3 linked regions of the Homo sapiens genome follow. The protein of the gene in region 1 purifies or fractionates together with the protein of each later gene. This does not show direct contact. Each region holds a gene or a part of one and is shown on either strand. Other genes may lie near its edges. The genes, in order: KITLG, SLC67A1 and PIGU.

Region 1 (3,746 bases):
CCATCTAAAAAATAAAAAATAAAAATAAATCTTGAAGAAAAAAAAAACAATCATTTGCTATGCCTCCAGTATCCAAATTAAGCTCATTTTGATATTTGATGTTCGATATATTTGTACTAAGAGTACCTAATGTATAAAAATCTTTCTAAGCAACTATCAACTTGGAATCATGATTGATGTGCTGTCTATACATATTTTTTCTAACATGAGAAAGTGAGAACGCAGTCCCCCACTAAATTATGCAGTCGAGTTTCCCACATTTGGGGAAATCACAGAAGTCAGCACATCTGGAGTGAAATAAACAAGCTTCGCCCTGATTACAGGTTTGGCATATTCATGTTTAACAAACGCACCGGAACTAATTAAAGCAAATTTGGACTCCTACTCTATTATTAAAATAACTAATTCCTAAACTCATACATTATTCTTTCTTTTAAAGATCACTGATGTTAATGTTCAGCTAATATTTTCTTTTAAAAAATTAATGAAATGCTTTGGAATGTTCTCCAGTTATACAAACAAAAACAGACACATTCTGGAGAATCAATAAAATATTTGAAGTATTTTTTAAGACTGTACAGCTGGAGCTCCAGGTTTAAATTAGAGCTCTGCCATTTACTAGATATGGTTGGTCAAGAAAATTAACCTTGTATTTCATCGTCCATAAAATGGGAATAAAATAATAAGATCTACACTAATAGATTTGATGAAAGAATTTAATGAGATAATCTATGCGAAGTTCTTAGTCTGGCACCTGGCACATGAATAAGTGCATCACATAATGATGTTAGCTATTATTATTGTGGTTGCATTATCTTTCCGTTCAAAAAAGTACAACTTTCAAAGCCTTGCTGTGTTGGCGACCTGTAGTTTAATAATCTATCGCTTCTCTTTCAATCTTAATTTCTAAAGACACAGTAACAAACCATTCCAAATGAAGCGTCTCCCCTTGCAATACTTAACCTTGAGTCAACAATTCTTGTAATTATTAAATATTCATTCACTAAAGTAATTGTTTTTTTTAAAAAATAGAGGTGATAGGACAATGGCCTAACTACAGATCGCAATTAAACTTTATTTCTCTAAGGCAGGCAGGGTGAATTCTTTGCTCCGAACCTCCCGGACTCCTCTCCCTCTCCGACTTTGTATAACAGAGGGAGCTCCGAGCCCTCTCTGGCGCGCGAGGTATTTCGTCTGTCCCCGGGGGTGCCAGGTGAGCCCCAGCGGATCCGGGAGGGTAAGCTGGGACTCCTCGCGAGCAGTAGCTGCAGGGTACCAAGCTTCGCCCTCTGCGTCCCCGCGCCTTCGCGGTCTCCCGCCAGTGCAGGTCCGGGGCCCCCAGGCGAGCGGACAAGGTTGGCCTAATCTGCCAAACTTCTGGGGCATTTACCGTGCTCTGGCCGCCCTCCCGATTCTTCCCTCCGCGCCCTTGCCTGCTTCTCGCCTACCCCGGGCTCCGGAAGGGAAGGAGGCGTGTCCGGAGCAGGCGGGCGGGAACTGTATAAAAGCGCCGGCGGCTCAGCAGCCGGGCTTCGCTCGCCGCCTCGCGCCGAGACTAGAAGCGCTGCGGGAAGCAGGGACAGTGGAGAGGGCGCTGCGCTCGGGCTACCCAATGCGTGGACTATCTGCCGCCGCTGTTCGTGCAATATGCTGGAGCTCCAGAACAGCTAAACGGAGTCGCCACACCACTGTTTGTGCTGGATCGCAGCGCTGCCTTTCCTTATGAAGAAGACACAAGTGAGTAGGGCGCGCCCGGGAGCTCCCAGGCTCTCCAGGAAAAATCGCGCCCGGTGCCCCGGGGAAGCCGGCGCTCCCTGGGACTTGCAGCTGGGGCGTGCAGGGCTGTGCCTGCCGGGTGAGACAAGAGGATGCGGGGGAGGCCGGCGTGGTGTGTGATCCCGAGCCGAGCCGGGTGAGCCAGGGAGAAAAGGAGTGGGAGTGCTGAGAGGGAGCCAGTGTCAAGTTTGGAGCCTCAGCAGTTAAGTTTTGAGCTGTCAGTCGGAAACCGTAATTCCCGTCTGGTGGAAAGATTGGCTTTTGGGCCATGGAATGTTAAGTTATCACGGGAAGGCATGTCTTTGCATAGGAGACGGTTTTCCCGTGGATTCCAGGAGATTATGAAACAGCACCCCACGCGCCACCCTCACTAGCTCTCTCACTCAGATTTATTTGTGTAGCCCCGAGGTGGGCGCCGGGCACCAGGAGCGGCGCGAACGCGGGTGCAGCCGCGGGAGCGAAGCCAACGCGGAACTCCTAAGCGGCAGCTCTCGGCGGGGCGGGAACCTGCCCGCCTGCCCGGGAAACTTGGCTCTCGGCGGTGTCTGCCTAGTTTGCAGCTCTGTGTGGGCTCTAAAGAGCTCTAGTACCTCCACAATGCACGCACCTTTTTCCATTTCAAAAGGGATAAAGGCTTTTTATAAAATAGGCACCTCTGAATGATAGTGATTGAGATAATTCCCAGTGCTGCTAAATTCTGCATTATACATAAAGCACTGTGGGTAAAGCGCTGCCTGGGGGGACAATTAGATTTTTTTTTCCCTTGAAGAAAATACCTGGTTCTTCGTTTAGAAAGGGCCGCCACGGTGCCCCTATCCACAGTTCTCTTCACCATTGTTGATTGTTACCTCCTCTCACTTTCCCCCTTAGAAATTGTTATGTGTTATCTGCCGCGGTTGGCTAAGGGTTGCCCTTTCACCCCCCAGAGGTTCTGTTGGAGATTGCAGTTCCTGAAATGTGTGGAAGGGGTGGAAGTGGTGGGGAAAAAGGAAACCGGGGTGTTTGTACACATCGTTGGTGTAGAATGAAGGCATCAATGTGCTCAAAATGCTTTATCAAATGACCTGCTTAGCATCATATTTTAAACAGATATCTAGGCCTGCAAAAAGTTGCAAGACTCTAGCCCCTTGTACCGGTGTGGTAAAAGGCAGGGGAAAGGGACATTGCCTGGCTAAAAGAGGCTTGCATAGTCTCTAGAGCACTCTCTAAGAGAAAAGACGCGATGTGCCTCTCCCCTCTCTTACAAGCAGGTTAGCTTTCAGGCAAGGCATTGAGCACCGCACCTGGAATCACCACAGCGTGCTGTCGAAATGCAAATGTTAAAGATTCTTGCAACAAAAGAAAAGTTTTATTGTAATCTCTTGATTTAGACAAGCTTTCTGCGAAATTATAAGAAGGGTAGAGACCTATTCCTTCTTATAGTAGCATCTGCTCCCATGGATGGTGGTGAGATCTGGGGGAAGAAGCTGCTACCTTCTAGTTCAGGAAAAGAGCCTAAACCTTCCTATTTAAACAAGAACACAGGAGACAGATAAGGTTAATGTCCAACACTCCAAAGCCAGGGGATGTACTATCAAGTCACTTTGAGAGGCAGTAGGATTGATTATCCTTGCACCCTTGCTTTGCAAAACAAATGTGAGCTCTGTAATCTCCTTTCTCGCTTTGATTAAATGGCTGTGTAAATCGGATTACATGGAATAATTCCATTGAAAACTAGAAAGAGGTCAATCTAGTCTGAAACATTGTGACTGTGGCATTAGTGACTCAGTGCTGCCGACCAGAGAAATTTGAGAAAGCTAAGTATTTTAGATATGTGACCTGTTCGGTCACACATCACACAAGTTAAAGTGCAGGCCCTTTGGGGGAACTTGCTGATGTTAAACGGCTTGTAGGCAAAGGAGGGCAGTACCCTTGTTGAATGAAGGCATTCATTGCCTAGGATCTAATGACCTTCAAGGTTTTTTTTAAGA
Region 2 (3,380 bases), on another chromosome or scaffold:
AGACACCCTGATTGGCCAGGCTGCTGAGGCGGGAGGGAGGTGGGCGCCAAGGTCGGGGTGTGGGGGTACTCACCCCTGTTCCCCTGCCCCGGCTCAGGGCTCTTCATGGTCATGTTCTCCATCATCTCCATGGACTTCTTCCAGCTGGAGGCCGCCCAAGCTGGCTACCTCATGTCCTTCTTCGGGCTCCTCCAGATGGTGAGTGGGCACACAGGGCCTGCTGGGGGGCACGGCAGGGGTCTCCAGTGGGGCAGGCCTCTGAGAGTAGAGGCTCCTCCCCGGCGGAGGCTGGGGAGCCCTTGGCCTCCCATCTGGCACATGTCAGGGTCCACAGGGAACCAGGCATACAGGCCAGGGAGGGAGAGCCAACTGCAGTGGTGGGCACGCTGTGAGGACAGTGGACTCCGGCCTCTGATGGGCAGCTGGCTGGGATCTGTGGCAGCCCACCTGCCCACCAGCTGTGTGACCAGAGCAAGTCTCCCAAACTCTCCAAATCTGTCCCATGAGGCCAAAGTGCCCGCCTTGCAGGGTCCTTGGCAGATGAGATGACCTAACGTGGCAAAGTGGTTAGACCAGCGTGGGCCCCTTTGGAGGTCCCATAGGAGCAAGACGCCAGCCCTCAGAGGCCACGCTGTCATGGTAGGATAAGACGCCAGCCCTCAGAGGCCACACTGTCATGGAAGGATGCCCTGAAACCCTGGCAGCTCCGATGCGGCAGGTGTCTGTCTGCCAGCCCCCCAGAACCGCTCAGCTCCCGGGCCGGGGCGAGACACCTCCACCACCAGCTCCTCTGGGCTTCTGGACCAGACCCTGGGTGGTGGGGACAGGTGATGATTTGCCACCACCCAGGATGGCTGCCTGACAGCCAGAGTGCGGGGCGGGGGGGCTATTCTGGGACCCGCCAGGGTGGGGGTGGGGGCTCTCGGCCTCTCCGGAAGCCTGTGGCATTCCTGGCACCTCCAAGCCATCTGCTCTTCAGCCTCTGGGCCCAGGACTAGACTAGTGCTAAAATAGCTGCTCCTGGGAGGGGCTGGACCCCCACCGTGGGCAGAGAGGGCCTCTGCTTTTTGGGGCAGGAGGGGCCACCCTGGCAGGGTAAAAAGAGATAAACAGAAAAACAACAGCAACAATAATAGTAACAATCCGGGGTTGTTGCCATGGGGCCTGTTCTGAACAGGCTGCGCCCAGCTCACTGCGAGGAAGGACGCTTAGCCAGGCCCTGGCTGAAGCCTGCAGCTGGGCTGGACACAGCAGTCATTGGCCTGTGTTGTGGGGGACTTGGGCCTGCCATGGCTGCAGTGGGGACCCTGCCTGAGACAGACAGAGCTGGGGTGGTGACCAACACCGTCGGGGCACCCTCGCAGGAACTGGGCCTGGTGAACTGCCCAGGGACGGGGAAGGAGCAGGGTGAGGCATGGGGACCCCGACACAGGTTGAGCAGCGGGAGAGGAGGCTGAGGAGGGGAAGGAGGGGGCCCGCAGAGTAGCCCCCAGACCCCAAGTCCGGTCAGGGACAAGCTTGTTAGCTCCAGGTTCATGTCACAACCTGCAGGGCTCCTAAGTTCAAGCTTTTTTAAACTTAATGGGCAAACTGAGACGCAACACAAATAGGCTTCTGACCTTGGTGTCTGAGTCCTGGATCTGAAGTCCTTCACGGCACTCACTGTGAGCCCCTCTTAGACGCACTGCACGAAGTGAGCTTGCCAGCTCTTCCTTTAAGAAACGTGTTAGGCCGGGCGCGGTGGCTCACGCCTGTAATCCCAGCACTTTGGGAGACCGAGGCGGGCGGATCCCAAGGTCAGGAGATTGAGACCATCCTGGCGAACATGGTGAAACCCCGTCTCTACCAAAAATACAAAAAAAAAAAAAAAAATTAGCCGGGCCTGGTGGCAGGCACCTGTAGTCCCAGCTACTCGGGAGGCTGACGCAGGAGAATGGCGTGAACCCGGGAGGCGGAGCTTGCAGTGAGCCGAGATCGCGCCACTGCAGTCCACGCTGGGCGACAGAGCGAGACGCCATCTCAAAAAAAAAAAAAAAAAAGGTGTTAAAATCCCAAAAAACCCTAAGATAAAGCAAGTGTGAAAGTAAGATTTTTAAACCATTTATGGTTCCGGTTGGAAGCAGTTTCTGTTCTGCCTGGCAGGAATTTGGGAGGGTGACTGGTCCCCTGCAGAGGTGCTGCAGGCTGGGCCTGCCCTGTGGGCAGATACTGAGCCCAGGGGCTCCTCCAGCCGGGGCCACCCCTGCACTCCCAGGCGCGTTGGCCCAGCACGCCCTGCTTAGTGGAGGAGCTGAGATGACCAGATAGAGAGCCTCGCCCTGGCCTGGGAGCAGCCTGCGGCCAAGCCTGTCCCACCGAGCCCATCCCCGGGAGCAGCCTGCGGCCGAGCCTGTCCCACCGAGCCCATCCCCGGGAGCAGCCTGCGGCCGAGCCTGTCCCACCGAGCCCATCCCCGGGAGCAGCCTGCGGCCGAGCCTGTCCCACCGAGCCCATCCCCGGGAGCAGCCTGCGGCCGAGCCTGTCCCACCGAGCCCATCCCCGGGAGCAGCCTGCGGCCGAGCCTGTCCCACCGAGCCCATCCCCGGGAGCAGCCTGCGGCCGAGCCTGTCCCACCGAGCCCATCCCCGGTGTCCCTGGTGTGGGCCTTTCCTTCCTCCCTTGTGGAGAGGAGCCCCGACTCCTCAGGGATCTCAGACCCATCCTGACGCAGTCACTGCTGGCGGAGTAGGGAGAGACCCCGGGGCTTGCAGATGCTGAGGGGCCTTCTCTGCAGAGGGGCCCTGGCCACCACAGGCCAGTCTGGAGGTCCCCAGCTTTGGGGGCTGGCCACAGTCCAGACGCCCCTCCCTCGCCTCCCCCATACCCACTTCTACCCTCTCTGTCTGGCTCTAGGTGACCCAGGGCCTGGTCATCGGGCAGCTGAGCAGCCACTTCTCGGAGGAGGTGCTGCTCCGGGCCAGCGTGCTGGTCTTCATCGTGGTGGGCCTGGCCATGGTGAGGGCTCCCCGCTTTGGGCCCACTCACCTGACCCTCTCACTGGGCAAGGCCACCTGGGCGGTACCATCTGTGCTTAAGCCCTTGGGGACTCCTCCAGCCCCCCACACCCACCCGGGGCCAGCTCTTCAGCAGGGACAGCAGTCAGGGTGGGGAGGGACAGGTAAGACCCCAGAGAGGAGCCTGGTCCCGTGAGGCCCCCACTCAGCTCGGCCCCCGCCTGCCGTCCCAGGCCTGGATGTCCAGCGTCTTCCACTTCTGCCTCCTGGTGCCCGGCCTGGTGTTCAGCCTCTGCACCCTCAACGTGGTCACCGACAGCATGCTGATCAAGGCTGTCTCCACCTCGGACACAGGTGAGTGTGGCCAGCGAGTGGAGCAGCCTCCTC
Region 3 (3,646 bases), on another chromosome or scaffold:
CCAGTGCTGGTATTACAGGCATGAGCCACCGCGCCCGGCCGGGCTCCTCTAGTCTTTGTGCCAGTTAGGACCCCAGAACATGTCACTCTGTGTCCTCAGGTCTCTGGATCCCACCCAATGTGGCTGAAATACTGCCTTGCCAATCCCCTTCTCAGACTTGCCCTCTTCTCTTCCTGCAGCCACCTCTCTGGACACACACACACACACACACACACACAGGTGCACACACACGCACACTCACACTGCTCACACATGCACACACAGGTGCACACACATACATGCACGCTTGCACTGCTCACACAGGCTCGCACTGCACTCACACACAGGTGCACACACACAGGTGCACACATACACGCATGCTTGCAATGCTTAGACACACATGCTTGCACACACACATGCTCGCACTGCTCAGACACGCTCACATTGCACTCACAGGTACACATACACGCACACAGGTGCACACATACATGCAAGCTTGCAATGCTTAGACACACATGCTCACACACACAGATGCACACACATACACGCACGCTCTCACTGCTCACATGCTCGCACTGCACTCACACACACACAGATACACACACATACACGCACGCTTGCCTGCTCAGAAGTTCCCTGGCTCCCCCTGCCCTGCCCAGCAGCGCTGCAGCTCCCACCTATCCCTCAGAGGCTCATCTCCTGCCAGGAGTCTTCTCTAACCCTGCATTGTTACATGGACCCTGAAGTGAAGTCACTGCCCACTGGCCTCCCAACCAAATGGGGCTGCATTTGCTCCAGTTCTATGGCCCCAGGCCCGGCACAGGGCCAGCTCTCTCTGAGTTGTTTGCTGGTCTGTACCCTCTCAGCGCTGCCCCCAGGGACGGCTCGGTCCACATTCCTCTCTATGGCAGCCATGAGGGCTCCAGGGCCGCCTCCCTCTGGGACCATGATGAAGAGCTCATGGGGCAGCTAGCTGATAAAGGGGTGACCAGGGACAGACAGGATGAATCAGAAGTAGAACGAAACCCTCAGAACATGCTCTAGTGCAGGGCAGGATGGAGAGACAGGGAAATGAATATCTTCTGAGTGTCTGCCCTGGTCCAGGCCCTTTAACAAAAAAACAATATTGTCCCTTTCCAACCCCCCAGGGTAGGGCTGACAATGCCTACTTAGAGAAGGGAAGCTCAGGGGTTATGGGCCCTGCAAAAGGTCACATGGTAGGAAGTGAAGAGTTAGGGGCCAGTCCTGCCTGTCAGAGGCCCAATCCTGAGTTCTTCCACAACCCCCTAGGGTCTGCACCCACATGAACTGAGTCCTGCTACATGCCAGGCCTGTGCTGACACCTCAGGTACCTTTACACCCTGCGGAGTCTGCTCTCCCCAGTTCACAGCTCTGTCACTCAGTGGAGAGAGAGAGAGATTGACTTTTTTTGTAAAAAGCCAGTAGAGGTTGTTAATACAGTGTGTCTTGAAACTACTGGGCTCAGGACAGCAGCCTTGTCCACCACCAGGGCTGCAGATTCCTAGAGAAGCAGGTGCTATCACCCAGGCATGTCCTGGTTCCCCAGGCCTCCTGCTGCTGTTGGGGACACAGACACTGACATTTGACAGTCAGCCCACGCTGGGGGGAATGCATGTGGCCGTCACAGTTGGCAAAGTGCAGCAGCCTCTGCCCACCTGCCTGGGATCCAGGAAGCTGGGAGGCAGAGGAGGCTGGCGGCCGACTGTGGAGCTGGACAGCACTTTGGCGTAACCTGGCAACCCACAGGCCGGAGCGGACATTATGTAGGAGGAAATGGTGGAGGAGAAAACTCCACCCTCCAGCTCTGAAGATGCAAAGTAACAAGTGAAATCTCTGGACCTCAGTGTCAGGGTCTGAGAGGTCACAAGGTGAGACTGAGGATGAGGCTACAAGTAACTGTCCCTTACATGGCACTTTTCACTTACATGGCACTTTTCCCACATTCAGTCCTCAAAACCACCTTCCCAGTTTGAGGAAACTGAGGCCACCACCACCTCCCCCAGATTTCAACCTCCCCTAGCCTCGTCCCTGGTGCCCTGGATGCCAGGCTCACACCTCTTACCTCTGCTCTTCCCAGCAGTGAGGTTTTCAGAGCATGGATCTGATCACATTTATCCTCAGCTCTTAAAGCCAAAGGTGCAGTCTGGACCTCTGCATAAGAGGCCCTTGAAGGCCTGTGGTCTGACCACTGCTGTCTGAATTGCCCTCATTCCCTCTCAAGTGGTACAGCCAGTCCCACTGAGCTCCCAGCAGCACGGTGTTCCTCCTTTGCTCCCTCCTTCCTCCTCTCTCTCTCTCTCTCTCTCTCTCTCCCTCCTTCACCCCCACCCAGGTCTTGCTACCTAAAATCATAGAACCCAGTTAGATCCTACCCATCCCTCAGGACCCCACTTAGAGGCCACCTTCCCCAGGAAGCCTCCTTAACAGCCCAGCTCTGGGCTCCCAGCTCGTCAGGCTGCCCTGTCCTGCCCATGTCTTTTCCTTTCTCTCCACAGACCGAGGGCTCCTTGGAAGTACACCTCTGTCTCATTCACCCCTCGCAGAGTGCCTGGTGAATAGTAGGAACCTAATTAACATTTGCAAATAAATAAATTAGCTTCCCAGGAGTTACGGGATGTGCCTGAGGCCAGCGAGCCAGGACAGACAGGGCTGGAGTCGCTATAGAGTTTGGGCTTCCAGAGCCCTGGCCTTCTGTGGCCTTTGTCCTGCTGTATGTAGCCTGGGCTCTTCCTGTCACTCTGGTTGTTGGGGAGGAGAATAGGCTGGGAAGGGCCTGTGAGGGACAAGCTTGGGATGCTCAGTGCTGGAAGGACAAAGGAATGAACTAAGACCTTGACAGAATTACACTAGTTGGGAAAAGCAAAGTAAACACGCACATCCAGCAGGATGAGGACAAGGGCTCCAGGTTGGCCACAGGCACCGCATATCGGGAGCAACGAGCCTTCCCACACACAGACCTGGGATCTTGCACAGCCCAGGCCACACACAACCGGCAGGAAGAAACCTGAAATGGGTCTCGAGCCAACCCCAAATGGGGGCTACACACCACTCAGCCACTAATGACCCACCCAACACGTCTCCAAGCATTTCCTCATAGGTCCCATTTCCCAGAATGACACACCAGGCCAACTGAGAGGCAACTCCGGGAGACAGGATTGTGGTTTCACCTGTGTTGCAGTGAACAGTGAGTCCCAGGCAGGGGACAGGCAGCATGCAGGAGGTTGGTGTCAGACCTCGGGCTTCAGGCCTCACTCAAAACAGAAAGGAGAATGGCCAATGCAAGGCCAGCCCAGTATCTGAGGGTCTGCAGTACAGGGAGGGGTCAGGGCTGGCCCCTCATGGCAAATAGGCAGTGGCTTGAGGAGTAGGGTTCCAGATGATCCAGATCCTGCTTGGAAGGGTGGGTGGTTGGCCAGGTGCGGCAGCTGACACCTGTAATCCCAGCACTTTGGGAGGCTGAGGCAGGAGTTTGGCTTGAGCTCAGGAGTTCGAGCTCGTAACAACATAGCAAGACCCTGTCTCTACCAAAAATTTAAAAAGTAGCCAGGTGTGGGGGTGTGCCTGTAGTTCTAGCTACTTGGGAGGCTGAGGTGGGAGGACCTCTTGAGCCTAAGAGGTTGAGGCTGCAGTGAGCTGTGACTGTGCC

Evidence for each region.
Region 2: the proteins of KITLG (region 1) and SLC67A1 purify together in Homo sapiens (affinity purification with mass spectrometry; one large-scale study listed by BioGRID and IntAct). This does not show direct contact.
Region 3: the proteins of KITLG (region 1) and PIGU purify together in Homo sapiens (affinity purification with mass spectrometry, with the first as the bait; one large-scale study listed by BioGRID). This does not show direct contact.

What each region holds. Positions count from the first base shown.
Region 1 is NC_000012.12:88,578,255-88,582,000, reverse strand, and holds the start of KITLG (kit ligand isoform b precursor), read left to right. Parts: upstream 1-1,529; 5' UTR 1,530-1,722; coding exon 1,723-1,737; intron 1,738-3,746. UniProt on the Homo sapiens protein: Ligand for the receptor-type protein-tyrosine kinase KIT. Plays an essential role in the regulation of cell survival and proliferation, hematopoiesis, stem cell maintenance, gametogenesis, mast cell development, migration and function, and in melanogenesis.
Region 2 is NC_000011.10:2,919,210-2,922,589, forward strand, and holds part of SLC67A1 (solute carrier family 67 member A1), read left to right. Parts: intron 1-97; coding exon 98-198; intron 199-507; coding exon of another isoform or gene 508-549; exon of another isoform or gene 550-2,581; intron 2,582-2,892; coding exon 2,893-2,994; intron 2,995-3,226; coding exon 3,227-3,347; intron 3,348-3,380. UniProt on the Homo sapiens protein: May act as a transporter of organic cations based on a proton efflux antiport mechanism. May play a role in the transport of chloroquine and quinidine-related compounds in kidney. Plays a role in the regulation of lipid metabolism.
Region 3 is NC_000020.11:34,565,518-34,569,163, forward strand, and holds part of PIGU (GPI-anchor transamidase component PIGU), read right to left. Parts: intron 1-3,646. UniProt on the Homo sapiens protein: Component of the glycosylphosphatidylinositol-anchor (GPI-anchor) transamidase (GPI-T) complex that catalyzes the formation of the linkage between a proprotein and a GPI-anchor and participates in GPI anchored protein biosynthesis.